Linked DNA regions of Homo sapiens. The protein of the gene in region 1 purifies or fractionates together with the protein of each later gene. This does not show direct contact. Each region holds a gene or a part of one and is shown in the gene's direction. Other genes may lie near its edges.

The links.
Region 2: the proteins of LATS1 (region 1) and MYH6 purify together in Homo sapiens (affinity purification with mass spectrometry; one large-scale study listed by BioGRID and IntAct). This does not show direct contact.
Region 3: the proteins of LATS1 (region 1) and TNFAIP8 purify together in Homo sapiens (affinity purification with western blotting; 2 studies listed by BioGRID). This does not show direct contact.
Region 4: the proteins of LATS1 (region 1) and PTPN14 purify together in Homo sapiens (affinity purification with western blotting; 2 studies listed by BioGRID). This does not show direct contact.
Region 5: the proteins of LATS1 (region 1) and LIMD1 purify together in Homo sapiens (affinity purification with western blotting, with the first as the bait; 2 studies listed by BioGRID). This does not show direct contact.
Region 6: the proteins of LATS1 (region 1) and SAV1 purify together in Homo sapiens (affinity purification with western blotting; 3 studies listed by BioGRID). This does not show direct contact.
Region 7: the proteins of LATS1 (region 1) and CRABP2 purify together in Homo sapiens (affinity purification with western blotting; one study listed by BioGRID). This does not show direct contact.

What each region holds. Positions count from the first base shown.
Region 1 is NC_000006.12:149,662,200-149,666,519, reverse strand, and holds part of LATS1 (serine/threonine-protein kinase LATS1), read left to right. Parts: intron 1-1,877; coding exon of another isoform or gene 1,878-2,000; exon of another isoform or gene 2,001-3,204; coding exon of another isoform or gene 3,205-3,303; exon of another isoform or gene 3,304-3,328; intron 3,329-4,281; coding exon 4,282-4,320. UniProt on the Homo sapiens protein: Negative regulator of YAP1 in the Hippo signaling pathway that plays a pivotal role in organ size control and tumor suppression by restricting proliferation and promoting apoptosis.
Region 2 is NC_000014.9:23,390,800-23,395,119, reverse strand, and holds part of MYH6 (myosin-6), read left to right. Parts: intron 1-796; coding exon 797-1,052; intron 1,053-1,211; coding exon 1,212-1,454; intron 1,455-1,601; coding exon 1,602-1,778; intron 1,779-2,062; coding exon 2,063-2,208; intron 2,209-2,467; coding exon 2,468-2,558; intron 2,559-4,320. UniProt on the Homo sapiens protein: Muscle contraction.
Region 3 is NC_000005.10:119,393,523-119,397,427, forward strand, and holds part of TNFAIP8 (tumor necrosis factor alpha-induced protein 8), read left to right. Parts: 3' UTR 1-3,905. UniProt on the Homo sapiens protein: Acts as a negative mediator of apoptosis and may play a role in tumor progression.
Region 4 is NC_000001.11:214,380,349-214,384,668, reverse strand, and holds part of PTPN14 (tyrosine-protein phosphatase non-receptor type 14), read left to right. Parts: coding exon 1-1,358; intron 1,359-4,320. UniProt on the Homo sapiens protein: Protein tyrosine phosphatase which may play a role in the regulation of lymphangiogenesis, cell-cell adhesion, cell-matrix adhesion, cell migration, cell growth and also regulates TGF-beta gene expression, thereby modulating epithelial-mesenchymal transition.
Region 5 is NC_000003.12:45,600,811-45,605,130, forward strand, and holds part of LIMD1 (LIM domain-containing protein 1), read left to right. Parts: intron 1-4,320. UniProt on the Homo sapiens protein: Adapter or scaffold protein which participates in the assembly of numerous protein complexes and is involved in several cellular processes such as cell fate determination, cytoskeletal organization, repression of gene transcription, cell-cell adhesion, cell differentiation, proliferation and migration.
Region 6 is NC_000014.9:50,636,987-50,641,306, reverse strand, and holds part of SAV1 (protein salvador homolog 1), read left to right. Parts: intron 1-413; coding exon 414-557; intron 558-4,320. UniProt on the Homo sapiens protein: Regulator of STK3/MST2 and STK4/MST1 in the Hippo signaling pathway which plays a pivotal role in organ size control and tumor suppression by restricting proliferation and promoting apoptosis.
Region 7 is NC_000001.11:156,699,106-156,702,583, reverse strand, and holds the end of CRABP2 (cellular retinoic acid-binding protein 2), read left to right. Parts: intron 1-1,531; coding exon 1,532-1,710; intron 1,711-1,925; coding exon 1,926-2,042; intron 2,043-2,507; coding exon 2,508-2,558; 3' UTR 2,559-2,978; downstream 2,979-3,478. UniProt on the Homo sapiens protein: Transports retinoic acid to the nucleus. Regulates the access of retinoic acid to the nuclear retinoic acid receptors.

The sequences.
Region 1 (4,320 bases):
CAGCCTCCCAGGTAGCTGGGACTACAGTTGCTCGCCACCACACCCGGGTAATTTTTTTGTGTTTTTAGTAGAGACGGGGTTTCACCGCATTGGCCAGGCTGATCTCGAACTCCTGACCTTGTGATCTGCCCGCCTCAGCCTCCCAAAGTGCTGGGATTACAGGCATGAGCCACCGCACCCGGCCTATAATGGCTACTTTCAAGTTTTTGTCAGAAAATTCTAGCATCTATGTCATATCAATACTGACTTTTTCTATGTTGAAATTTTCTGTTTTTGTTTTTTGTTTGTTTGTTTTGTATACTAAGTTATTTTGGATTGTATCCTGGACATTTTGAATAATATGTTATGAGACTCTGGATTTTTTTTTTTTTTTTTTTTTTGGAGACGGAGTCTCTCTCTGTCACCCAGGCTGGAGTGAGTGCAGTGGTGCGATCTCGGCTCACTACACCACCCAGGTTCAAGCGACTGTCCTGCCTCAGCCTCCCAGGTAGCTAGGACTACAGGCGTGTGCTACCATGCCCAGCTAATTTTTGTATTTTTAGTAGAGACGGGGTTTCACTATGTTGGCCAGGCTGGTCTCAAACTCCTGACCTCAGGTGATCTGCCTACCTTGGCCTCCCAAAGTGCTGGGATTACAGCGTGAGCCACCGTGCCCAGCCAAGATTCTGGATCTTATGGAGAATTTTGACCTTGTTTTGACAAGCATTAAACCCGGTTGGGTTCAGGCCACAAGTTCCAACCAGTCTTTTTTGATTTCAATGTCAGTTTCAAAGGCTTTTCCTTTCTAGGCAGATAGATCTCTTTGTAGGCTGTGGTCTTTTCCTTAGTTCAGTTCTCAAAGTCTTTGGTATGCTCCTTAGGATTAGATCCACATAGTTACAGTTTGGAGGGGGAGCCCAGCAGTTCATAAGCAACTTAATGGGGTCACTTGCCCAATCTCCTCCCTCTCTGTGATGTCCCCAGTACTTTCCTGTTCCCTGGGGCTCCCTATTTAGTTCTCTGACCAGAAAGTGAGGCTTTACTTATCCAACTCTGCCAATATCTCATAACTGCATCTGAATCCAGGACAAGGTGGCAAAAGGACACAGAGAGAAAACGAGCAACAGAGATTCAACCCATCTTCTTGGGACCCCATGCTTTATTAATTTATATATTTATGAGATATTGTCTCACTCTGTCACCCAGGCTGGAGTGCAGTGGCACAATCTTGGCTCACTGCAACCTCTGCCACCTGGGTTCAAGTGATTCTCCTGCCTCAGCCTCCCGGAGTAGCTGGGATTACAGGTATGCACCACCACACCCCACTAATTTTTGTATTTTAATAGAGACGGGGCTTCACCATTTTGGCCAAGCTGGTCTCGAACTCCTGACCTCAAGTGATCCACCCGCCTCGGCCTCCCAAAGTGCTGGGATTACAGGCGTGATGAGCCACTGCACCCAGCCCCATGCTTTGTTATTTTATTTACAATTGGAGAGGAAGGTTTGGCTGTCAGTTTTAGGTGCATACTGGCTCTTATTGCCACCTCCGTTGCTACCAGGAAACTCCTTTTCTACTCCCTGAGCCTGAACTAGAGGGAATTCTCCTAGAGCTCTCTGTGCTCAGCTTCTTCCAAGTTTTGGGCTACCTTGAGTCCAGCCTGCAGACTACTAGAGACAAAAAAATGGAGCTGGGTGTGCTGGCAGAGGCCTGTAGTCCCAGTTACTCGGGAGGCTGAGGTGGGAGGATTGCTTGAGGCTAGGAGTTCAAGACCAGCGTGGACAACATAGTGAGAATTAATTTTTTAAAAAAATAATTTTTTTTAAATGGTCACCAGGTTTAATGGTACTTCAAATTTACATCTTCTCCCCTAATCTACCTGTTATTATTTACTTTTCAGGATCTTGAAGTAGCTGCTTCCTGCATCCTGACCAGGTTTTATAGCTGCCTTCTGTGGGAGGGAGACAGGAGAGTATATGTAGTACATCTTCCTCAAAACTGGGACCTCTCTGGTTGCTTTTAGGGTTTTCTTCTCTTTAACTTTGGTTTTCTTCAGTTTGACCATGGTGTGCCTATGTGTAGTTTTCTTTGTATTTTTCTTGGTTGAGATTCACTCAGTTTCTTGAAATGTACATTAATGACTTTCATCGATTTGGGGAAATTCTCTGTCATTATCCCTTCAAAGATTTATTTTGCTTTCTTACCTTTTGAGACTCTAATGATTATACATGTGCTATTCCTTTGATACTGTCCTCCATTTCTCTTATGCTTTATTCTTTCTTTTATTCTACATGTTTTCTCTCTGTGCTTCAGTTTATATAATTTTATTCATCCATCTTTGAATTATCTGAATCTTTTGCTGTGCTCTTTTTTTTTTTTTTGCCTTAAACTGAAAAATCCTAAATATACCTTAAAATAAAAAATATTAAACTTGGCCAGGCACAGTGACTCACGCCTGTAATTATAGCACTTTAGGAGGCCAAGGTGGACAGATCACTTGAGGTCAGGAGTTTGAAACCAGCCAGGCCAACATGGTGAAACCCCGTCTCTACTAAAAATACAAAAAAATTAGCTGTGCGAGGTGGCGGGCACCTGTAATCCCAGCTACTCAGGAGGCTGAGGCAGGAGAATCGCTTGAAACCAGGAGGCAGAGGTTGCAATGAGCCGAGATCACGCCACTGCACTCCATCCTGGGCGACAGAGCAAGACTGTTTCAAAAAAAAAAAAAAATTGTTCATCTCATTGTGTATATTTTTTATTTCTCCTGTTTGAAATAAGTGATGAAACTGGAAGCATAAATAACTATTATTAACTGTATCATTTTTTTTTTCCAAAAAGGGTTTTTAAAATATTCTATTATTAGTTGAAGCCTCTCCATTTTCTAATCTGGGATAAGACTTTAAAAGGAACAAATAATAGACGAGGGAGTATATTTTTCTTCCCTCTATAGTAGCTGACTAGCTCCTCTACAAATAAGGAAGATTATACTGTTCATTTATTCAGCTTTTTAAAAAATATTTATTGACTGCCTACCATGCAACAAGTTGAAGATTTTTTTTCCCTCTTTTGAGACAGGGTCTTGCTCTGTCGCCCAGGCTGGAGTGCAGTGGCACAATCACGGCTCACTCTAGCCTCGACCTCCCTGGGCTCAGGTCATCCTCCCACCTCAAGTAGCTGGGACCACAGGTGTACACCACCAACCTGGCTAACTTTTGTATTTTTTGTAGATATGGGGTTTCACCATGTTGCCCAGGCTGGTCTTGAACTTCTGGGCTCAAGCAATTCATCTACCTCGGCCTCCCAAAGTGCTAGGATTACAGGTGTGAGCCACAGTGCCTGCCCAAGTTAAAGGTATCTAAACTTGGTTAAATGACAATGCATTCTACCACTTAACAGAGTTTGCCCCAAATCCATTTAATATCGTACTTGGAGTTGTATACCAATTCCCCTGCCTCCAAGAGTTCAGCGGGAGAGACTAGGTAGTCTTAGGTAGTCTGGCTTCACTTGGCATTCCTTTCTTCATCATTTCATTTTATTCATAACCAGAGATTTTTCTTTTTTTTTTTTTTTTTTTTTGGAGACAGTGTCTCGCTCTGTCACACAGGCTGGAGTGCAGTGGTGCAGTCATGGCTCACTGCAGCCTCAAACTCCTGGGCTCCAGGAATCCTTCTGCTTCAACCTCCTGAGTAGCTAGGACTACAGATGCATGCCACCATACCTGGCTAATTTTTAAAGTTTTTTTGTAGAGAGGGGGTCTCGCTTTGTTGCCCAGGTTTGTCTTGAACCTTCCCGGCTTCAAGCAGTCCTCCCACCTCCGCCTCCCAGGGTGCTGGGATTACAGGCAAAAGCCACCACGCTTGGCACCAGAAAAAGTTTTATCAAACATGTATTAAGTATGTGCCAGGCAATTTACTGAGCACTAGGAGATACAAAGACCACTAAAACATAATCCCTAGCCTTAATGGATATATTTCAGTAGGACATAAACATAAATAGGTACCACAAGCTATTAGAAATATGATAGAAATAAATATATGGTACAGGGGAGGCAGAGTAGAAGTAGTCACTTCTACCATAGGCCAAAAGGTTTACTAGGGGAGATTAAAACTGACAGTGAGTCTTATAATGTGAGTAGAAGTTGCTTGGAGAGGATGGGATAGGAGAAAAAATTATTTTCCAGCAAAATATCATGTAATTTATTTAAAATACAAAAATAGCCCAGTGAGACTTTTGGTATAAAACTTGAAGGAAATCTTTATTTTTCTAATTTATCTCTTCCCCCTAATTTTAAAAAATCTTTAAAGGTTATCAACTGGCAAACATCTCTTCACATTCCACCACAA
Region 2 (4,320 bases), on another chromosome or scaffold:
GCTAAGGCAGGCGGATCACCTGAGGTCAGGAGATGGAGACCAGCCTGGCCAACATGGTGAAACCCCGTCTCTACTAAAACTACAAAAATTAGCTGGGCATGGTGGCAGGCACCTGTAATTCCAGCTACTCAGGAGCTGAGGCAGGAGAATCGCTTGAATCCGGGTGGCAGAGGTTGCAGTGAGCCGAGATTGTGCCATTGCACTCCAGCCTGGGCAACAAGAGTGAAACTCCATCTCAAAATAAATAAAGTAAAATAAAAATAAAGATACATTCATATGTGGTTAAAGTAATTTTTGAAAAAGCAAGGAAAGGAAAAATAAGATTCAGAGTGGCGGCTGCTCCTGGCGGGGTGACAGGGGTGTAGGAAGGAACGCACAGGTAGATCAATGGCTGGTAACATTTCAGCTCCTGTTTCAGTGGTAGGTTCATGGATAGTCATTTTGCTTTCATGCTGCATAACTTACATACTTATTATAGACATTCTTATATGTAAACCCCTACATAATTTTTAACATATTTGAAGTTCTTATGAGAATAGAAAAACCAAACAGAGTAGACATTCTATAAGTGGTAGTTTCCATTACCACTAATATCCCAGCTGGGAGGATATAAACTGCCCTTTCATCAAATTGATTAATAAATATTTATCAAGCAACTCCATGTTCAGTGTAGTGATGTTGGAGGTGGGTGTGCACAAGAAGGAAGTCTACGTGCCTACGAACTTGCTTAGTAGGGCCCATGATTGGGAAGCTCTCTTTTATAGTGCCCCACCCTGCCTCCACGTTTCCTTGCCAGGGATGCCCTGCTGGTAATCCAGTGGAACATTCGGGCCTTCATGGGGGTCAAGAATTGGCCCTGGATGAAGCTCTACTTCAAGATCAAGCCGCTGCTGAAGAGCGCAGAGACGGAGAAGGAGATGGCCACCATGAAGGAAGAGTTCGGGCGCATCAAAGAGACGCTGGAGAAGTCCGAGGCTCGCCGCAAGGAGCTGGAGGAGAAGATGGTGTCCCTGCTGCAGGAGAAGAATGACCTGCAGCTCCAAGTGCAGGCGGTGAGGCCACGTGATTATCTCTTCAGCCCTCTCCTCCCCTCCCCTAGATTATAGCCCATCTCACAACCAGGGACTGGGAGTCTAGGAGTGCCAGCTCTTTTTAAGACCCTAGGTCTCCTCTCTTTAACCATCAGCTTCCTCCCTGTTCTCTTCTCCCAGGAACAAGACAACCTCAATGATGCTGAGGAGCGCTGCGACCAGCTGATCAAAAACAAGATTCAGCTGGAGGCCAAAGTAAAGGAGATGAATGAGAGGCTGGAGGATGAGGAGGAGATGAACGCGGAGCTCACTGCCAAGAAGCGCAAGCTGGAAGACGAGTGCTCAGAGCTCAAGAAGGACATTGATGACCTGGAGCTGACACTGGCCAAGGTGGAGAAGGAGAAGCATGCAACAGAGAACAAGGTGAGGGCAGCTCCCTCTGGCTTCAGCCCAGGTCTCCTCAAGACTCCCAGACTAGAGTGTTGTCCTGGTCCTTGGCATGGAGGTCCCCATAGATGTCTCCAGGCTGGTGATCTTTGACCCTAAAGGGGATGGGTTTTTGGTCGGCAGGTGAAGAACCTAACAGAGGAGATGGCTGGGCTGGATGAAATCATCGCTAAGCTGACCAAGGAGAAGAAAGCTCTACAAGAGGCCCATCAGCAGGCCCTGGATGACCTTCAGGTTGAGGAAGACAAGGTCAACAGCCTGTCCAAGTCTAAGGTCAAGCTGGAGCAGCAGGTGGATGATGTGAGTAGTAAGAACCATGCTCCTGCTCTCAGAGCAAGATTTTGCAGGCAACACCAATGGCCCAGAAAGTCCTGATCCCTAGAATTAACTTCTATGGCCCCTGAAGCTTTTTTGCTCTCTGTAGTTCCTCACTACAGTAGGTCTCTGAATCCTTTGTGCTTGCAGGATTTCTCTGTTGGTTTGACTTCCAATCCCACTGGACTTCAAGTTTAGAAGGAGGCAAAAGAGCATACACTATGGATTTCATGTTTTCCACACTTTGCTTATTTTCTTCCCTCCAACAGCTGGAGGGATCCCTAGAGCAAGAGAAGAAGGTGCGCATGGACCTGGAGCGAGCAAAGCGGAAACTGGAGGGCGACCTGAAGCTGACCCAGGAGAGCATCATGGACCTGGAAAATGATAAACTGCAGCTGGAAGAAAAGCTTAAGAAGTAGGAGACTGTGGTGGCCAGGAGGGGCTAATGGAGGTGTCTGGCCTGGTAGATAGAGTGCAGGGTGCTGCGCCTCCACTGGCCACAGTTGCCTTGGGTATGCTGGGAATAAGGTCAATCACAGCCCTCTTCCGCCACTTTCTGGGCTGGCGAGGGGAGGGGGAGGTGCCGATTCTGGCATACTAAGGCCAAGAAGAGAATGAGCCCCAGAGGAAGGAAGGCTACCTGTCACTCCCCCACCCCCACCCTTCTCCTGCAGGAAGGAGTTTGACATTAATCAGCAGAACAGTAAGATTGAGGATGAGCAGGTGCTGGCCCTTCAACTACAGAAGAAACTGAAGGAAAACCAGGTGACTTTTTTTCCCAGTGCATGAAAGTGGGAGCTCAATAGCCCTGAGGTAACTGAGGCTGCAGCAGCTGCTTAGGGTTCTACACAATATCTGGAACTCCAGGCAGCCTCATAGACCCAACCATCCCTGACTTACAGGCGCTCAGGAACACTAGCCTTCCCCCATAGAGCAAGAATACATTACGTTAGCAAAACTGTTTGAGAAGGGGGACTCATACCTACTAAAGGGCTTCTCCTTCTGAGATCTGCTCTGCCTCAGGGACTTTCTACTCTAAGACAAATGATAGAGCTCTATTCTCCTCTAACCCTTCCTCTGGTAGTTCAGCCCTCTGAACGCAGGGTGAAAAAAAAAAAAGGCTTCAAGGAGCACCTTCCTGTGAGCTGCTCTGTTCATATTCTTCCCGGTACTAACCCCAGCCACTAACCCAGGCTGAGTCCCCATAGGGCACTCATGATAAGAGCCAATTCCAACAACTGTGAGCAAGTCACTTACCCTCCCTGATCCTCAGATTCTCTTCTCACCTGTAAAATGAGACTGACAATACCTACCACACAGGACCAGAGGGGATAATGTATTTGAAACCATTTTGTCAACTAGGAAATTCTATACAAGTATCATATTAATATAGCCCAATTTAGAGAAGTCAGCCAGCCACTAGCCTAAGAAGGTATTGTTTTGTCTTCTCAATGGCCTTCTCATTCCTCTGCAGCTCAAGATTTAGTGAACAGCCATAGTCTCCCTTAGCTTTAATGAACCTCAAACCCTAATGTGCTTTTAGTATCGGGTTTGTCAGAAGAGACCTGGAAGTCCACTGCCATCCCCATTATAGAGCTACAGAAGCTACATGGCCAGGTCTGGACATAGTGACCCCAAGGGCAACAGGAACTCGGCTACTGGGGCGGGACCTTGTCCTCTCACTTTGGGGCAGACTGTGGCTGGTAGAAAGAGGTAGTCTCCCCTCTGCACTTGAGGCCCATGGCCCAGGCTGCAAGTAATGTATGAACACAATTCCACTCCTCTGGGGCTGCACAGGGACTGGCCCGCCTTCATTAGTAATTTGCCCTCCCATCTTCTTGGATGCCCCTTCTGGGTTTTAGCTAGAATATCGGGCCATCCTCAGGTTCTTCTACCCTAGGTCTGGGCAACTTGTTTGGCCTCTTGGACACAGAATAACAGTCCTGTTAGTCTCATCAGCTCTCGGCAATAGGCTATGGCTCCTCCTTCATCCCCAAGATCTTGCTCAGAAGTCCCACCTTCTCCATCCTGGGAGCAGAGGCATGGTGGTCCTCTCTGCTGCTTGTAGGACCCATCCATGAACAGTCCATTAAAGCTGTCCATAACCCGAGGTGAAGGGATTTCCACTGAACCCCCGTTTTGCTCCTGGCTAGCCAGACAACAGATCAAAATGGTAGATACGATATTCTCCCAATTTAGTCAAGACCAAGGCTAAGGCCCAAAAAATGAGGTAAGGGCACTTAAAGAGGATAAGGAGATGAGGTGAAGAGGAGAGTAGCCTGCTAGCACTTTCCTGGCCTGGAAGGGAGCAATCATGTTGAAACCCAGCCCTGGGCATAAACACAGCAAGCCTGGGAGAGCAAGGAATATGGTTGATTGGACTTTGTGGTTAACTTGGAGAATTGCAAAGGTATCTGATTGTTTCGAGGCATGTTGTCACAAATATTTGTAAAATACAAGCACTCATTTTCCCGTCTTATGAATAGCGCAACAGAGCCTAGTGAATCTGGGGACTCTGAACTTCTTG
Region 3 (3,905 bases), on another chromosome or scaffold:
TTTATTTGAAGGCTTGTTTTATTTGAAGAAAAGCATATTGCCAAAAATTCTGGTTAAAAGCTTCCTAACGGGTAACAGACCATGGGAGAGATATGTGGTTGGGTAATGCAAATGTAGTTATACAAAGAAAAATACAGATGTCTCCAGACCTGAGGACTTTTTAATAGGGCAGTTGTTGTGTTGGTGGCACATTGGATATTTCTAACATGTACAAAGCTATGTATTTTGATTTACTTTCATTTCTTGCTATGTATATGTACTTTTCTTAAAATGCCAAGAACTTTCTCTTGCTATCATTGCTCCTTTTGAAACAATTCAATTTTCATGTCTACAGCTGACTGTTTTGTTAAGATTGAGTCATCGACATTCAGGATTTAAGTCTGAGGTAGTCAACCCTCAGGAAAAAAAAAATGGCTTATCTGAAATCAGTACTGTGGAAATGAACTATATTAGCTATTATGAATAATGTCCAGTATAAGAATATGCTTCTGGAATTGAGTTCTCCTTTTAAGTACCAATGATACTTAAATTTCTCAGAAATGTAATGGTGTGTCATTGCCTTGAAATGCTTGCTTAGGGCTTCTTTTATGTTATCTTAAAAAGTGCTGGTGAATTTTCCATTTTTTACATCCATTTCACATGTAAGAGACAAAAAAGTCTAGATTGGTCTTGATATTGAGATAATAAAAAGTAAGTAGCATTAAGAAAGGTAACAATCTTCATTCTACAGATGAACTCATTGAAACAATTTAGGGGAATGAGGGGCAAAAGGGGAGAAATACTGCTAAAGAACATGAGCATAAAAATGCGTGCGTTTCAGTGTTTAAGAAGGCTTGATAAAGAATGTCACTTTTTTATTTAACTGATAAGATTTTTGTTATTTTTTACTTTGATAAGTAAACCAAAGAATATTTGTATTTCAAGCAGTTTGTGTGGTGTTTCTATATAATTTTCTGTGTATAAATAATAAAGTAGGCATTTGTTTATTTTGTAAAAAAGAAATGAAAATCTGCTGGCCAGCTATGTCCTCTAGGAAATGACAGACCCAACCACCAGCAATAAACATTTCCATTGTCACTGTGTCTATGATTTTTTTTTTTTTTTTTTTGAGTCTCGCTCTGTTGTTTAGGCTAGAATGCAGTGGCATGATTTTGGCTCACTGCAACCTCTGCCTCCCAGGTTCAAGTGATTCTCCTGCCTCTGCCTCCCAAGTAGCTGGGATTACAGGCATGCACCACCACACCCAGCTAATTTTTGTATTTTTAGTCGAGATGGGGTTTCACCATGTTGCCCAGGCTGGTCTTGAACTCCTGACTTCAAATGATCTGCCTGCCTCGGCCTCCGAAAGTGTTGGGATTACAGGTGTGAGCCACTGTGCCTATGATTTAGTGTACTCTCTTGCCTTAAATTTGCCTGCCTCCCAGAATATTGACATTAAAATAATAGTTTACCAGGAAAGGTTCCACAACTAAAAATTCCAGAAGTTGAGATCTGCTCTAACCCATTTCAGCCTAGAGAGGGTGGTCAGTTTCTCTGACACCCTCATTTGCTTGGCTAAGACAAGCAGCAAAGGTGTAGAGTTTCTTCCTGTTTGATATTAAATCCTGACACTAAGATTTGAACTGAAAGTATCATTCTCACTTCCTAGAGCCAGTAGGTGATCAGTATATGCTGTAACAATAACACAGTGACTACAGAAATGACCCTTCTAGCTTCATAACTTGCTAAGTGGCTTATAAATGGAATTCAGCAGCCTTCCTTGACCAGCTGTTTTCCTCACATGTGAAGGCTGAGAATGTGATGGGGGGTGTGAGCTACTGACTGGATGTGTTCTGTTCTCCAGATCTCAAACAGCAGAGGTATGGGAAACGAAAGCCCTGGGCAGTCCATGGATGCTTCTTGCTCATCTGTAGCTATAGACAGGACCAACCAGAGAGAGAAAACGTACGGAGGGAGAAATCTGGATCTCTCTGGACACACTGGATCATAGGGTTGTGCCAGCAGGCTAGCAATCAAATGTGCATGGGATTGGGGGAGCAATGCTTCATCTCCCACAGAGGGAAGGCAGTGAGGAGTAGACCGAAGGAGGGAATCCTGTTTGCTACCATTTCTCAGCATTTTCTGGAGGGGACCCATCTCCTTACCAGTGCTGTGCCTGAAAAGCATGTCTTGGATCAGGTCCAAAGTCGTGATTAGCAAGTTCATTTCTAATACAATAGGACTCCCCTTGAGCATTTAGGGTGGCAAGGAGCGTGGGAGCTGGGAAGAATCCCCACGTGCTTAGGGTAGATAAATCTGAGCCGAGTTAATACTAATTTGGGGATCCTATGAACCTTTTTATAAAATAGTATCTGTTCACGTTTTGAAAAAAATTGTGTTGTAATTGATTTTATTTTGTGCTGGTGGCTTCTCTGCAAAAATTATGAGTGGATATGATAAGTGGATGATAATACTAATGGACAACTAACGCAGAGTAGTTTGTATTATGTGTCGGGCACATTAACTCATTTAATTCTGCCACAATCTTCACCATCTTATAGATAAGGAAACTAGGGGAATAGAAGTTAAGGAATTTCCTGAGGTCACATGTGCTCGAGGTGTCCCAGCCGGAATATGTATAAAATCTTATTTTCACTTAAAGATGATATGGCTAAAGGCAGTGCTAGGAACATCTTTGGCTCAGAGAAGCGTGGGCAGTATGCTGCTGAAATGGTTCCTCATATAGTGACATTTTAGGCAGTACCTAAGTCAGCACAGGTCTGGCCTGTTCTCTAAAGATCTGTGTAGATGTTGTACAAAGACATTTTTCAAAGTTTTCAACATGACTCCTACTTTGGGGGCATCTTGTGGCTCAGTTTTCTGTCTCGTGGAACTTCACTTCTAGGTGCTCACAATGACTTTTAACGTTGACTTCTGAGGTGCAGTGAGCTGCTCCCCCACAGCTGTCCCTAGCAGTGGTGGGTTCAGAGCATGACAAGGCACTCAATGTGCATTCACCAAGAGAAGCAAGGAAGCAGCAGTTCAGTACTGTGCTCCCTAGAGTAGGCACGGCATCAGTTTCAAACTTCAACATTATTTTCCAGATTTGGAGGCTCAAAATATTTGAGCAAGTTAAGTTAAGAAATAGCCTTTTTCTGATTATTAGGCCTTTCATATACAACTCAAAATTAGTTTAAGAGTAAAGCATGGGGTGGGTGCGGTGGCTTATGCTTGTAAGCCCAGAACTTTGGGAGGCGGAGGTGGGAGGATCACTTGAGGTGAGGAGTTCGAGACCAGCCTGGCCAACGTGGTGAAACCCCACTGCTACTAAAAATACACAAGATTAGCCAGATGTGGTGGCAGGCACCTGTAATCCCAGCTACTTGGGAGGCTAAGGCAGGAGAATCGCTGGAACCTGGGAGGCAGAGGTTGCAGTGAGCTGAGATTGTACCACTGCACTGCAGCCTGGGCAACAAGAACGAAACCCCGTCTCAAAAAAAAAAAAAAAAAAAAAAAGCATGAGTTAAGAACTTTGATCGTACAGAAATATTGCGTTTTAAACTCTTATATAATAGTATGCCATTCACAATTATCTGGAAAGTTCTTTTTCTCCCACCATGTGAATACACACACACACACACACACACACACAATTTTTAAGCCCCCAAAGGCTTAAAATAGTACTTTTTGTGGTCTGTACCGGTCAGTTGGATTTTTACTAAGAATTTTAATTTATCCTTGAGATACTTGATGAGTGTATATAAGCAGTTGCAATTTAGCATACAAAACCTGACAAATGGTAAATAAAAGAATATGTTTATCCAAATGATGAAATATTTGTAGTAAAAAGTGCTATTCAATTGCCAGGAAATTAAAATACTCCAGTAAAATGAATTAAATTAGCATGTTAATAAGAGTGATAATAT
Region 4 (4,320 bases), on another chromosome or scaffold:
CCCTCAACTGCTCGCAAAGTTTCATCCAGGCCTCCCCTGTATCCTCCAACCTCAGTATCCCTGGGAGTGACATCATGCGGGCCGACTACATCCCGAGCCACCGGCACAGCGCGATCATCGTGCCCTCGTACAGGCCAACCCCCGATTATGAGACAGTCATGCGCCAGATGAAGAGGGGGATCCTGCATACAGACAGCCAGAGCCAGTCTCTGAGAAACCTCAACATTATCAACACCCATGCCTACAACCAGCCAGAGGATCTGGTGTACAGCCAACCGGAGATGCGGGAGAGGCACCCCTACACTGTCCCTTATGGGCCACAGGGGGTCTACAGCAACAAACTTGTCAGTCCATCTGACCAGAGGAACCCAAAGAATAATGTGGTACCAAGCAAGCCGGGGGCAAGCGCCATCTCGCACACGGTGAGCACCCCAGAGCTGGCCAACATGCAGCTGCAGGGCAGCCATAACTACAGCACGGCCCACATGCTTAAGAACTATCTCTTCAGGCCACCGCCCCCCTACCCACGGCCACGACCTGCCACCAGCACCCCAGACCTGGCCAGCCACCGCCACAAGTACGTCAGCGGCAGCAGCCCGGACCTGGTGACCCGGAAGGTGCAGCTCTCGGTGAAGACCTTCCAAGAGGACAGCTCTCCGGTGGTTCATCAGTCTCTCCAGGAGGTGAGCGAGCCCCTCACGGCCACCAAGCACCACGGCACTGTGAACAAGCGCCACAGCCTGGAGGTGATGAACAGCATGGTGCGGGGCATGGAGGCCATGACGCTCAAGTCGCTCCACCTCCCCATGGCTCGCCGCAACACGCTCCGGGAGCAGGGACCGCCCGAGGAGGGGTCAGGCAGCCACGAGGTCCCCCAGCTCCCTCAGTATCACCACAAGAAGACCTTCTCTGATGCCACTATGCTAATCCACAGCAGCGAGAGTGAGGAGGAGGAGGAGGAGGCTCCAGAATCGGTGCCCCAGATCCCCATGCTCCGGGAGAAGATGGAGTACAGTGCCCAGCTGCAGGCGGCCCTGGCCCGCATCCCCAACAAGCCCCCGCCTGAGTACCCCGGTCCAAGGAAGAGTGTGAGCAATGGGGCTCTGAGGCAGGACCAAGCCAGCCTTCCTCCCGCCATGGCCAGAGCCAGGGTGCTGAGGCATGGGCCAGCCAAGGCCATCAGCATGTCTCGGACTGACCCGCCGGCTGTCAACGGGGCCTCTCTCGGCCCATCCATCTCGGAACCCGACCTGACTAGTGTGAAGGAGCGGGTCAAAAAAGAGCCTGTGAAGGAGAGACCTGTGTCTGAAATGTTTTCCCTGGAAGACAGCATTATAGAGAGAGAGATGATGATCAGGGTGAGTGTCCTCCTCTCCCAGGGCATTTTCCAGTGTGAAAGCACATGCTTCAGGCACTGAGCAAGGGGCAGGGCTTATGCAGGGAACGTGGTAGGTTTTTAAGGAATCATTGAGCATTTAAAAGGTAGTACTTTATTACACAAAATGTTGAGTTTTTGCCCTTTCAGATAAATCTTCCATTCTCATTTGTGGCTTCTAACAGGTGTACTTGGTACGTTATTGAGGCCAGTGCCTCAGCCAGCATTTTGCTGTTTATTCAAAGCTCAGACTTCCAATTGGGTAAGCTGGTATTGGGGAAGTTCACCTTGCTGTGTCTTTTAGTGTTTTGTTTTCTTGAAGGAAAGCTGTCCCCCACATCCAGTTAGGTATTAAAGAGCAACATCCCTATACCGCCTTCTGTATAGATCCGTAAGTCAAGACTCACCAGTATTGTCTGGACTGTGATATGTCTAGCTTTGTATTCAGATTTTCTTTCAATAGATGTTTCACACAGATTCAAGAAAATTATAGTAATTGGATATATAACTTAGTAATTGGATAAATAATTCTCCATTGAACTTATTCTGTCAAAAATTCACACACATACGTGAATACACACATACATATATACATACATATTACCACTTGAAGATCCATCCTAGTACTAGACATGAATAGCTCTTCTTCATAATATGTACAGAGCCAGGTATGGTGGGGGACACCTGTAGTCCCAGCTACTTGGGAGGCTGAGGTAGGAAGAGCACTAGAAGCCAGGAGTATGAAGCCAGCCTGGGCAGTATAATGAGATCTTATCTCTAAAATAAAATAATAATAAAAAAAGAACCAGCCAGACATGATGGCAGGAGCCTGTAGTCCTAGCTAATCAGGAGGCTGAGGTGGGAGGATCGCTTGAGCCCAGGAATTCAAGGCTTTAGTGACCTATGATTTTGCCACTGCACTCCAGCCTGGATGACAGGACTAAACCTCATCGCTTTAAAAAAATATATTGTACAATTTGGGGAGACAGTTAAGTTGTCAGAACAGGACTATGCAGGCACATATAGAACAACGAAGTGAATCTGCTCTTACTAATGAGAAAATGTTTGGATTATAGCTACTTTAAAAAATCTCGACTGGGCACTGTGGCTCACGCCTGTAATCCCAGCACTTTGGGAGGCCGAGGTGGGCAGATCACAAGGTCAGGAGTTCAAGACCAGCCTGACCAACATGGTGAAACCCCATCAGTACTAAAAATACAAAAATTAGCCGTGTGTGGTGGCGTGCACCTGTAATCCCAGTTACTCAGGAGGGAGGCAGGAGAATCACTTGAACCCACAAGGCGGAGGTTGCTGTGAGCCGAGATGGCACCACTGCACTCCAGCCTGGATGACAGAGCAAGACCCCGTCTCAGAAAAACAAAAAAAAATCTCCATTGCTGCTTGCCATGAACATTTTCACTCCTTTAAAAAAAACCTATTAACTAGAACTAATCAAAGCCAGATTGACTTCTCTTCATTCACCATGGCTGCACCATAAGGTAGCCAAGCCTAATTTTAGGAACTCCGAAACAGTTGTAACTTAAAATTTGCTTTGATGGATTCCATTAGGCCACCTTCATTTCCAGGTCTTCCTAACCCATCACTGGGATTCAACCTGAAAAGAACAATCAAGGCCCAAAGTTTTAAGGAAGCCAAGTTCCTGGGGTCAGAAATTGAATCTGTAGCAACCTTGTTACTTTTGGAAAACCTTAAGAACATTCTCAACCTCACAGTTCTGGCCAGCCCCACTAGAGTAGTGCTAAGAGATTTTTATACAGATATGACTTTTTGCAAACCTAGAAGGAAATTGTGCAAGGTGTACCTTTGCCTCTAGCAAAGAAAACCTTTGGCTTGGAATGGAAGAAATGGGTAGGTGCTGTTGGGAGAGAGCTTTCCCAGCATGGAATAAAGCAATTTATTGGTAGAAAATGATTTTTCAATACTTCTTCCAGACCACTTAAAAGCAACATTAGCATCAAGAACCTATCAGTCTAAGCATTTAATTTAGCTATTTCCCCTGCCAACTTGATACTTAATGATGTCCACATGGTCCCATAACCTCATTTTGGTTGTATTCATCCTCTTCTCTTGTTACTCGTATTAAACAAATAGCCTGTAGCCAAAATCTTGGCATGGGTCTCCTCCTTAGAGCTCCTTGCATTATCACAAAGGAACAAGGAGATTTTCACTATTGTTTTTTCTCCAGATGCTTTTCCATTCCATTCATGTGGGTAATAATGACTAGCAAATTTTAGCCATTAACCTTTAGTTCAAGAAAATAATTACCCCATTTCTACTTCATTTTCCCTGTTGATTTTTTTTTCCCCCAAATCTGCTACACTCAGGAGCTCAAGGACACCGGCAGACCTTAGAGTTGGATTAGGAGCTGCTTCAGTGAGCCAGGAGGCCAGGCAAGGTGGTGACAATGCCAGTGGCTTTGAGCCCAAGATGAGTCTCCATCTGTTTTGTTTTTAATGCAAAAACTCACCCCATAGCCTAAGCAACATCCCCACAGGTCAGATACTTCTCTGCTCTCCTCACTATGGGCAGCTTTTGCCAGCTTGATGGGAATTCATGAGAGGTGATGGCCATTCTAAGGGCCCTCTTGATCAGAACACAATGAGAAACTTTTAGCAAAAGAAAACTCAGGGGCTGGCGGGGTGTGCAGGTATGGTGAGAATTTGCCCTCTGGGCAGCTCTCCTGGAGCTGCTTGTCTGTTTGATGGATGGTTCCGCCGCTTTTATAGCTTCTCATTCTGGCTCCTACTGCTTCCTTGAAGATACTTCCCTGCTTGTAGTCCCCTAGCCAGAAGTTGATGCACTGAGAAGAAAAGGCCCTCTGATCACAGATCAGAGCTTGTGAATTATTATTATTTTTTTTATCTCTGGTAACAAGCTGATAGGGTGAGTGAGAAGGATCAAAGAGACATACTTTGATTTATCAC
Region 5 (4,320 bases), on another chromosome or scaffold:
CCCAGCGACTCAAGAGACTGAGGCAGGAGAATTGCTTGAGCCCAGGAGTTTAAGACCAGCCTGGGCAACATAGTGAGACCCCATCTCTACAAAAAACACAAAAATTAGCCAGGCATGGTGGTGCACACCTGTAGTCCCAGCTACTTGGGAGGCTGAGGTGGGAAGATTGCTTGAGCCCAGGAGGCTGAGGCTGCAGTGAGATATGATCATGCCACTGCACTCCAGCCTGGGTGACAGAGGGAGACCCTGTCTCAAAACAAAAACAAAAACAAAAAACCCCACAAATAAACCACTTGTCATAGGCTGGGTTTCCTGGGAAGCTGACTGAGACAGAGTTGACCATACAAGGGCTTATTAAAAGGTGCTTTTGGGGTCCCCACCTGTGGAAGATGGAGAAGGAATCAGGAGTGGGTAGAGGAGAGCTGAGCTGCTGGGACCTGACCCCGCAGGGAGCCTGGGAGCTGGAAAAGTCCTTTAGGGTCATCCTAGTTGGCCTGACATGGCCTGGCCTTCACACTCCCTCATGGATCAGCTGTTGGCTGTGGGCTGCCCAGGAAGATGGTGACTTTGGGCGAGGCAGCTCTGTGCAGCTGGGATAGTCTCTTCAGGGGCTGACAGGAGGGCAACCTGCCTGCCGCACCCCAGCAGCTGTGCCCTCCCCTGTCCTCGCCTTCATCGAAGGGCCTTTGCAGCATCCCCACAGTGCCCCCTTCCTGGGGGCAGGTAGGAGCGGGTGACTTGGGCATTATGGTTCTAGTAGTAGCTACCGTGTGTCAAGTGCCAGTGGTGTGCCGGGCACTGGAGTTCAGTGCTTTGTGGGCCTTGTTGGCATTTAACCTGCACACTTAGTTTTGATGTAGGCACCATTCTCTGTTTACAGTTGAGAAACCGAGGCCAGAGAGGTTAAGTGACTTGCTCAAGACCATATGGGTACAAGTAGTGGTGCTCCCATACCAGTCGGGATTTTGCTTCTGCTCTGACCACTTGCATGGTGGGACTAGGTGGTCTCTCACGTCTGAGTGGATGCCTTCTATTGCCCCTCCAGATTCATTCTCCACCCACGTACTGTAGGGAGCTTTTGTGGGCTCCTTGCGTTTTCCATGCCTTCTTCCCCCATATTTCAGGCTGTGGACTTTTTTTTTTTTTTTTTGAGACAGAGTCTCGCTCTGTCGCCCAGGATGGAGTGCAGTGGCGCGATCTTGGCTCACTGCAAGCTCCGCCTCCCAGGTTCAAGCCATTCTCCTGCCTCAGCCTCCCGGGTAGCTGGGACTGCAGGCGCCCGCCACCACGCCCAGCTAATTTTTTATATATATGTTTTTAGTAGAGATGGGGTTTCACTGTGTTAGCCAGGATGGTCTCGATCTCCTGACCTTGTGATCCACCCTCCTTGGCCTCCCAAAGTGCTGGGATTATAGGCGTGAGCCACTGCGCCCGGCCTGGGCTGTGGACTTTTGTGTCCCCTGGACCTGAAGCCCCTGTGCTCACCCTCCCTGCTGTGGGTGGGCCTGGGGATCTGTCACGGCTAAAGCTAACCAGGAGAGAGCCACATTCTGCTCGCTGTTAGGACCAGAGGGGTGGGAAAGGCAAGAATAAGCAGGTTCCAGGGTCTCCTGTACCCAGGAAGTGGATGGACAGGCCTGCTCCTCACCAGCATGGAGAAAGGAAGGGTTGGCATTGTGTTTGGTTTTTCTGTCTTTGGTGGATGTCCTTTCAGCAGTATCCTAACCCAGAAAACTGCAGTGACAGACCCCCCTTAGCCTGGGATCCTGAAAGCAGGTGTGACTCCTCCTGAGAATGGCCCTGCCCTGACCGGGGCCAGGGAGCCTGTCTTACTTGATTTTACTTTCCTGGCAATGCACAGGGTTAAACGAGCAGTCCAAGCAAGGAACATGTGGATGTCCTATCTATGTACCTACATGTCCTATTTGCATGACTACAGATGCCCTATCTGCATGTCTACATGACTACAGATGCCCTTCCATCTGACAGTCTGTTGCACACTGAGCTGCTCCTCGTTTTCATGACTTTTTTTTTTTTTTTTTAAATTGAGACGGAGGCTCACTCCGTCACCCAGGCTGGAGTGCAGTGGTGCGATCTTGGCTCACTGCGGCCACCGCCTCCCCGGGTTCAAGCGATTCTCCTGCCTCAGCCTCCTGGATAGCTGGGATTACAGGCGCGCACCACCATGCCCGGCTAATTTTTGTATTTTCAGTAGAGACAGGGTTTCGCCATGTTGGCCAGGCTGGTCTTGAGCTCCTGACCTCAGGTGATCTGCCCGCCTTGGCCTCCCAAAGTGCTGGGATTACAGGCGTGAGCCACTGCACCTGGCCCTTCATGACTTTTTAATTACTGTTTATCAGACTTTATTAGCAATAGATGCTTGAAATATGGTGCTTAATTCCAGCCTAGATTAAAAAATCGAGCATTTTTCACATAAAAGGAAACAACATGGGCTAGTCTTGTAATAAAGCAGCCCCTCCAGAATTCCAGAACAGAGGTCTGTCTGTGTTCCCCAGAGGCACTGGCTAACCAGCCTCCTCCCATATCAGGCATTTCATTAAACCCAAACCAACTGCTGAAGTGGAAGAAAGTGACAGAAGCTCAACAGCTGTGTGCCTCTGTCTGAGTGACTGGCATGACTAGATATGATGACGTGGGGACTGCCACCAGAATGCCTTTTGGAGATGTGCCATAATTTGAACCAGCCGAATCCAGGTTTCCATTGACATGGAAGTAAATTTCTGACTCTGCTGGTAACATTTGTCAGTGACATTCAAGACTCCAATCTCTCTGGCCCTGCAGATGCACACCCAGGGATATGGGGATGCCCAATCCTTTAGACATCGGGCAGTCTCTGTGCATTCTTTTAAAAAATTGAGGCAGAGTCTCACCATATTGCTTAGGCTGGTTTTGAACTCCCAGCTTCAAGTGATCTCCCACCTCAGCCTCCCAAAGTGCTGGGATTACAGTCGTGAGCCACTGTGCCCAGCCCATGCATTTTTTTAATGGACCAGGCAATCTTCCTAAGTCAGGAAGACATGTATTCTTAACCTTTTATTGATGTACGATGTACACATATCATAGATGTTCACAAAGTGAACCCATCTGTGTAGCCAACACCCAGATCAAGGCAGAACATGACCATCACCCAGGACGCTCCTTGTGCCCCTGTACAGTCACCACCAAGTGTCCAAGGATCAGCTGTCTGATTTCTGATAGCAAAAATGGGCTTTTAAACAAACATGGGATTTGATGTAACTTTTAAAAACTTGGAAAATGTAAAAACACATTATGGCATGTTTGGGGATGGATGAATGGAGATCGTGTGGCTGACCTGGGTGAAGCTTGGGCTGGAGACAGCAAGGAGTTGGTGCCGTCTGCCCAGGGCCACCTCCACTGTATGTCCTCCTGGGCTGGAAGCTCGCCCTGTAACAGCGGTGACTCCTGTGTGGTCAGTGGTCAAGGACTGGATACCGTCTCGGTCCTCTGTGTTCTCTGAAGGGATGTGACTACATCATGTGCCTCAGCCCCGTCCCTGCATGCCATCTCTCTCCACAGCACTTCTCTTCAGAGTTTTCCAGGGGCAGAGGTGAGGAAGCTCTCAAACTTCATTTAGATAGGTTCATCTTTTTGCTCAATCAGCAGGTCAATGATGCATACGTGTCAGGTCACACTGTGTTCTCAGCACTGGGTTGAGTGCTGTGGGGAAGGACAGCCAGTGCGATGGATTCACACTCCTCTCACTGTGACCTTGGAGACCCTCGCTCTGGCCCACCCCTCCTGTGCCTCACCTTGCTCCTTCTTCCCCGTCATCCCAGCCTTGTTTTCTCTGAGCCTGTTGAGGTCCTTGCCTTGGTGGCTCCCAACGGATGTTCTTCTGGCCAGTGCTGTGCTGCCAATGCCACCAATCCCTTCCAAGCAGGCTGATCTGCTGGGAGCTGTAGCCCTGGCGCGTCCCGACATGGATTCCCACAGCGTCTGCCTGTCCCGTCATGCTTTCTCTCTGGAGTCCTCCCTCCTTGGTATGGTATGTTTCTGCTCTGTTCTTTTGTGACCAGGAAAGAATGTCTTGTTTCTTCCATCCAGCCCTCCTGCTCTTTCCATTAACAGTCCAGAACATGAAACGGTTATTTTGACATGATCATTCTTGCCAGGGGTCTTAAAAAGTTATGTTTCTTTACATCTGTTGATTTGTGACTGTCACATAGGAGACAGAACTGTGCAAGAAAGACACATATTTGGGAGTCAGGAAACCAGGTCTTCTGGGCCTGATACCACCAGCAGCTCAGGGTGTGATGTTGGGCAAGTCCCTCTAGCTCT
Region 6 (4,320 bases), on another chromosome or scaffold:
TTGGATAGAGATATTTCAAACACAATACTCACTGCTGCGTCACTACATATCCTAACCCCCATTTTCAGCCTACGGGAGGAAGGAAACATCCTTTCTTAGAAACTGTCAACCTTTCTGATATGAATTTACAGCTGATGACTATTTCTTGTGGGAATTTACTATTCTAGTTTTAAGCCTTTGTATAAAGGTTAAAACTTAGTTCCAGCTTTTTCATATCCTCCTTTGAACCTGTTTTTGAAAAGACTAAATACCAGCCAGAAGAAATATCTTAAAAATACATTACCTTTCAGGTGGTGTAAGTCAGTTTGGACAGAAGGCACACTGAAAAATGCTTAAGTATTATTTGTTCTTTATAATTTCTTGTTTAGATTTTAAGACCTTTATCCTAAAGAATGTCACTCCTTTCTTCTTAGTGTACCTCGGTATGATCAACCACCTCCTGTCACATACCAGCCACAGCAAACTGAAAGAAATCAGTCCCTTCTGGTACCTGCAAATCCATATCATACTGCAGAAATTCCTGACTGGCTTCAGGTTTACGCACGAGCCCCTGTGAAGTAAGTACATTTACAACACAAATTTGTTTGAGGAGTGAGTGAAGGGCTGAATGGAGTCTCTGGGCTGCTCGATCCAAGTAGTGTGCCATATTTTACTCTTAATAATATTCGGCTTCTAAGTAATACGTGACTTGAATAAAGGATGTCATAGTTTATAATGTGTGAAAATCATTAATTAGAAATATTAGTTCTTCAGACATTTATAGAATCTTCATTTCTTTGTGTGCGGGCCTCTGCTATTAGGGATACAAGTAAGAAACTTACATTCTCATAGGAGAAGATTAATTTGTAAATAAGTGATACAGTACTTGTGATAAAAGTAAGGACCTGGGCTTGGCACAGTGGCTCACACCTGTAATCCCAGCACTTCGGGAGGCTGAGGCAGGAGGATCTCTTAAGTCCAGGAGTTCGAGACCAGTCTAGGCAACATAACGAGAGCCCCATTTCCACAGAAAAATTTTAAAAATTAGCCAGGCTTTTTGCATGGTCTGTAGTCCCAAGTACTTGGGAGGCTGAGGTGGGAGGATAGCTTGATCTGAGGAGTTCAAGTTCAGCCTGAGCAACATAGCAGGACTCTGTCTCTATAAAAAATTTAAAAATTAGCAGCATGCTGTGGTGTATGCCTGTGATCTCAGCTACTTGGGAGGCTAAGGTGGGAGGACTGCTTGAGCCCAGGAGTTTGAGGCCGCAGTGAGCTATGCTTGTGCCACTGCACTCCAGCCTGGGTGACAGAGCATGAGAGACCCTGACTGCCCCCCTACTAGTGCCAGAAAAAGGAATGATAGCAGATGGCATTTTCTTTCCTATTTTCCTCTTTTCTTTGTCCCTTGATACCACCTGACCTACAGCTGTATGTTTGTATGCTGATTCTAAATAGTACATAATATCTGTATGCGTTTTTATTTTCCTTAAATCTGGAAGAATATGTGCCTAACTGTTAACCTTAGTATTTCTGGGGGTGGATATGGTTGAGGAGAGTTATTCTTTCTGTTGTATGTTATTTCTACTCTATAGTCATGTTTAATAAGAAATAGCATAATCTTTCCTTTTTGGGGGAAGAGATAGTACTTAAATGGAATTCCTGGTTTCTTACAGAAAGAAACAGATTCCTGAAGATTATAGTCTTTTTGAATTCTGTGGTTCTGTGAGCTAACTATAAAACTCAAGGAAACTAGCAAATAGGTTGTAATTCTTCCAAAATGGGCCAGACTGACAAAAAGGGAGCAAGTACTATACTTCTTTACTGCTTAAAAACTTAAACAAGAGGTCTGGAAGCCTGTTGCTTTCTAGTTGATTCTAATTAATGTTGCTGAAGAGGATGGAAATGGTTAATATTCTATCAACAAAGGGTGAGTGGTTATCTATGAATTAGATAATGAGAATCAATTATCACAACAAAAAGAGACATTTTTGCAAAAAAAATTTGCATGTTTCTTCCTTTTGTTTTTCAGACAATTGAGAATCTGAAATTCTTTAATCCTGAAATTCTTTAATCCTATCTCTCACAGTAATTTACCAACACAATTTTTGCATATACTTCTAAAACTTGATTTAGAAACAGACTGTGTTTTAAATTTGTATTTAATTTTTGTAAAGTTATGTTCCTGTGTCTGCTCACAAAAGTCTATAATGCTTGGTATAACTGTACTCAAGCTGAACTATAGGATAAAATTTTAAAAGTTAGGCCGGGTGCGGCGGCTCATGCCTGTAATCCCAGCCCTTTGGGAGGCTGAGGCGAGTGGATCACAAGGTCGAGAGATCGAGACCATCCTGGCTAACACAGTGAAACTCTGTATCTACTAAAAATACAAAAAATTAGCTGGGTATGGTGGCACGCGCCTGTAGTCCCAGCTACTCGGGAGGCTGAGGCAGGAGAATCATTTGAACCCGGGAGGCGGAGGTTGCAGTGAGCCAAGATTGCGCCATTGCACTCCAGCCTGGGTGACAGAGCGAGACTCCATCTCAAAATAAAATATAATAAAATAAAATTTAATCTTTGACAGCAAAAACATTGTCAAGAACATATTTACTTTCTGTTATTTCTCACACACACACCAAAACACTAGTCCTCAGCAGTGTGTGGCAGGGGTATTTTTTATTCCAGTGGCTTGGCAGTCCTGCAGTGTCACCATTGACCCTGCTCTGGATACAGGTGAAAAAGAGGGAGGAGTGGACACAGTGTTATGGCGGGTGGGTGCAGGGGACTTAGGCTACATGGTGATACCTGGAGCTGAGGATAGCAGCACTGTTGATCTTGAAGTCAGCATGCAGTGTGGACAGGTTATTTTTGGTAGCATTATAGCAACTGGCATTTGTATATATGGCTTATTTATAAGTAGTATTTGAATAGAATACTGCCCTAGGAAAAACAGAGTGAAAGAGATGCTAGAAGCATGGACTACTGGAGTGTTTTACACCCAATTTTCGGAATGATTTACCTGTGTATATACAGTATAAATGACTAAAAGTTAAACTTGTGGAAGCAAATTTCTTGGCTAGTTAAGAAGGAAAGAATGGGAGTTTATACTTTTCAGAAAAAGAAGGAACACTTAGGTGATTATAGGCAGAAGGGTAGTAACTATGTAGAAGCAACAGAGGAAAGAATTTGGAATAGGATTTCCATTCCATGCTTTGCAGTTTTTTCACATCTGTGCCCTTCTTGGAGTGCACTTTCTTCCCCCAGAAGGATTTTCTCTAATCTGATTTTGTTGCTTCTACCCATAATCGTACTCTTGATGCTGAATGCTGATTGGCAAGTCAGAAACTTGGCCAGGCATGGTGGTGCACCTGTAATCCAAGCTACTTGAGAGGCAGAGTCAGGATTGTTAGAGCTTAGGAGTTCTGGGCTGTGATGCACTATGCCAGTCGGATGTCTGTACTCTTTGGCATCAGTATGGTGACCTCCCAGGAGCAGGGACCACCAGGTTGCCTAAGGAGGGGCGAACTGGCCCAGGTTGGAAAGGGAGCAGGTTAATACTACTGTGCCGATCAGTAGTGGCATTGTGCTTGTGATTAGCCACTGCACTTCAGCCTGGGAGACATAGGAGATCTTCATCTCTTAAAAAAAAAAAAAAAAAAAAAAAAACTGACAAAATTGTTTGAAGATTTTTTCTTCCTTTAGACAAAACTTGAATACTTATACAGAATGATATTCGTGTCTTAAAAATAAGTATAATATTTACCATCTTATTTTTGTTCTTTGTTTTCCTTGCTAGAAAGTACACAGATGATAGATTAGTTTAACATTGTTGTAGTTCACCTGGTATAAATGGTAACCATCTTGACTTAGTAGACATTGCTGAATTGCCTCTTAGCTAACTCTGGGAGATTAAGATTTTTTGTTAGGAATTATGAATTTGTTTCCAAGGAGCACATAAAATCTTAAGTTACAAGAATGGTGGATGTTCTAAGAAATACCTTATAACTGTTTCTTCATGGAGGCTCATTGAGTATTTCTTACAGTATCACTCTAATTTATGTTCACAAGTGGTTGGAGTTTCCCATTAAAAAGAACAGAGCTTCCTACCAAAGAAATCTAAATCTATTAATAAATTTGCAGCTCTCAAGTAACTGAGTGAAATTGGCAGTCCAATTAAATATATTTACCTTCCAGTTTTTGCATGTTGTATTACTGACATTTCTGTTACACATACTCAAGTTGAATAGAAACATGTCAAAATGCCAAGTATAGTGGCTCACACTAACTGCTCGGTATGTTTTCTATCTCCCTTTTTTAAAATCTCATTTTAAAATATTAGACAGT
Region 7 (3,478 bases), on another chromosome or scaffold:
TCAGGCTGGTCTCAAACTCCCAACCTCAGATGATCCACCCACCTCGGCCTCCTAAAGTGCTGGGATTACAGGCATGGGCCACTGCGCCAGGTCGTTTTTGTTTGTTTGTTTGTTTTTTGTTTTTTTTGAGATGGAGTCTCGCCTTGTCGCCCAGGCTGGAATGCAGTGGTGTGATCTTGGCTCACTGCAACCTCCGCCTCCCGGATTCAAGTGATTCTCCTACCCCAGCCTCAGCGTCCCAAGTAGCTGGGATTACAGGTGCGCGCCACTATGCCCAGCTAATTTTTGTATTTTTAGTAGAGATGGGGTTTCACTATGCTGGTCAGGCTGGTCTTGAACTCTTGACCTCGTGATCCGCCCGCCTCGGCCTCCCAAAGTGCTGGGATTACAGGCGTGAGCCACTGCGCCCAGACTTTTGTTTTGTTTTGTTTTTGAGACAGGGTCTCTCTCTGTCACCCAGGCTGGAGTGCAGTGGTATGATCTCGGTTCATTACAACCTCCGCCTCCCGGGTTCAAGCAATTCAGCAATTCTCCTGCCTCAGCCTCCTGAGTAGCTGGGATTACAGGTGTGAGCAACTGCGTCCAGCCCTGGCTTTTTTTTTTTTTTGGTAGAGTCGGGGTTTCAGCATGTTGCCCAGGCTGGTATCGAACTCCTGAGCTCAAACAATCCACCTGCCTTGGCCTTGTAAAGTGCTGGGATTATAGGTGTGAGCCACTATACCCAACCTTGATTGGCTTTTGAAGAAGCTGTTATTTCCATTTTACAATTGAGGAATCTAAGGCTCAGGGTGGTTAAGCCATTTGCTCAGGGTCACCCAGCCTGTAAGGGGGCTGAGCCAGGAGGAAATCACAGCCTCCTGGACCTTACTCCAGAGCCTCTGTCTTCCCAGGCTGCTGACCATTCTGTAGAGGGAAGCAGCTGCCCCTGCTCTCTTTCATTGCTGTGGGGCAGAAATTGGGCAAATGAAGACCTATCTAGCACTAGATACGGTGGGTAGATAGGGCAAAAAGGGAAATGGCTCCTACTTCCCAGGACATGAGTGATGGGGTCTGGCCTGTGCTTGGCCAGGGGTACAGTCCCAGTGACTCTGATGAGCTGTCAACAGGGTAGACAAAAGGCCAAAAGTGAAGTAAACAGAGACAACCGGAGCCAGTAGCAGGATGTTTGTTGGGTAGGGGGCTGGGGAGAAGCTGCCCCTGGGCATTCTGGGACTGAAGAGCTGAGACGTGGGGAGCCTGATCCAGACCTGCTGACTCAACAAGGTGGGGCCACAGCTAGGAACAGGACTCCCAGGGGCAGGCCACTGCCTCTCTCCCTCTCCTCCCTAAACCCCCTCATCTTTCAGGGCTGCACCGCCTACCGTCTCCTTCAAGGCACTTTCTTAGACACCCAGGCACCAGGCAGATGCACCCCCCAACACACCCACCCCAAGCAAGTCACAAATCAGCCTGCTCCAACTGTCTTATGGGGAGGGTGTGAGAGAGGTGCCCAAAGGCCCCTAAAAGGTGAGCCTCTCCTCTCTCCCCACAGGGGTGAATGTGATGCTGAGGAAGATTGCTGTGGCTGCAGCGTCCAAGCCAGCAGTGGAGATCAAACAGGAGGGAGACACTTTCTACATCAAAACCTCCACCACCGTGCGCACCACAGAGATTAACTTCAAGGTTGGGGAGGAGTTTGAGGAGCAGACTGTGGATGGGAGGCCCTGTAAGGTGAGTGCCAGAAGGGGCTCCAGGGTCATGGCGTCATTGCCCTGCCTCTCAACCTGCCATTTTCCAGGCTAGCAGTTAACTCCTAGCTTCTCTCTGTCCCAGTAGGGAAAATCCCTAGGTGGTGGTGGGGGCTAGAAAGGGGCTCTCTCCCTTATCCCTCTCACTGCATTGCCCCTGCTATGGGCCCAGCTCACTTGGCCACCTGTCTCTTGCAGAGCCTGGTGAAATGGGAGAGTGAGAATAAAATGGTCTGTGAGCAGAAGCTCCTGAAGGGAGAGGGCCCCAAGACCTCGTGGACCAGAGAACTGACCAACGATGGGGAACTGATCCTGGTAAGTCCTGCCTCCTCCCCACTAATAGCAAACCCAGTGCTACCTTCCAAGATTCTCTGGGAGACCCCAGGGTGCAGGAGACTCAAGAACAACCATGGCTGGACTCCGCACCCTGCTGATGGGACTGCTTGAACAGAACTAAGGTGTCCCTATCCCATACAGTGCCCTGTGTGAATTAGAAATGGTGTTCCTTTTATGCAAGCAAAGGGCATGTACTGAGGGATCCCAGCAGTTCTTCAGGGAGATCTTCCTGGCTTGAGGAGGAGGACGGGCCCCAGGGGCTCTATTGCTATCCTCCCTCCATTGATGCCTGGGCATTCTGGGACCAGCTCCTGCCTGTTGGTCTTGAGCCAAGAAGCAGGTTTGGACCTGGAGGCCAAGCAGAGTACCTCCATTCAACCCTCCTCTCCAAAGCCACAGGACCCCAGGGGCCTCTCAGGCTAACAACTACTTCTGTCCTTCCAGACCATGACGGCGGATGACGTTGTGTGCACCAGGGTCTACGTCCGAGAGTGAGTGGCCACAGGTAGAACCGCGGCCGAAGCCCACCACTGGCCATGCTCACCGCCCTGCTTCACTGCCCCCTCCGTCCCACCCCCTCCTTCTAGGATAGCGCTCCCCTTACCCCAGTCACTTCTGGGGGTCACTGGGATGCCTCTTGCAGGGTCTTGCTTTCTTTGACCTCTTCTCTCCTCCCCTACACCAACAAAGAGGAATGGCTGCAAGAGCCCAGATCACCCATTCCGGGTTCACTCCCCGCCTCCCCAAGTCAGCAGTCCTAGCCCCAAACCAGCCCAGAGCAGGGTCTCTCTAAAGGGGACTTGAGGGCCTGAGCAGGAAAGACTGGCCCTCTAGCTTCTACCCTTTGTCCCTGTAGCCTATACAGTTTAGAATATTTATTTGTTAATTTTATTAAAATGCTTTAAAAAAATAAAACCTGTCTCTGGCTCATTGGGCAGGTAGATAAGTCACCTGAGTTCAACCTTGCCTCTGAAATGTAGTATGGGAAAGACTTGTGTTTCTGCAGCATGGAACTGAGTTATACAACAGGAGAGGACAGTCCTTCCAGTCACCGTTCTAACCACCACCCCTTCGTTTGCTGCTGAATCCACAAGCCTCACCTCCACATTCCCTTCTCCAAGGTCCTTCCTTGGTGTCCTGCTCTGGCTTCCAAGGTCACAAGGGCCTCCTCCTCCTGACCTCTCAGCTGGGGCACTGGGCTCTGAGGAGCTGACTCCCACCTTCTCCCATGTTTTCCATCATGGTGACAGTTTCCTCCTCCTCCTCCAGCTGTTGCTTCCCTCTCCTCCAGCTTCAGCCCATGGGTGACCCCAGGCCTGGCCTTGGCCTCCCACATGGTTCCAGATGAGCTCAACGGCACCCACAAGCTGGCCTTGCAGCTGCCTGGGCCTCTGGGTGAGAGGTCTCATCCTGCC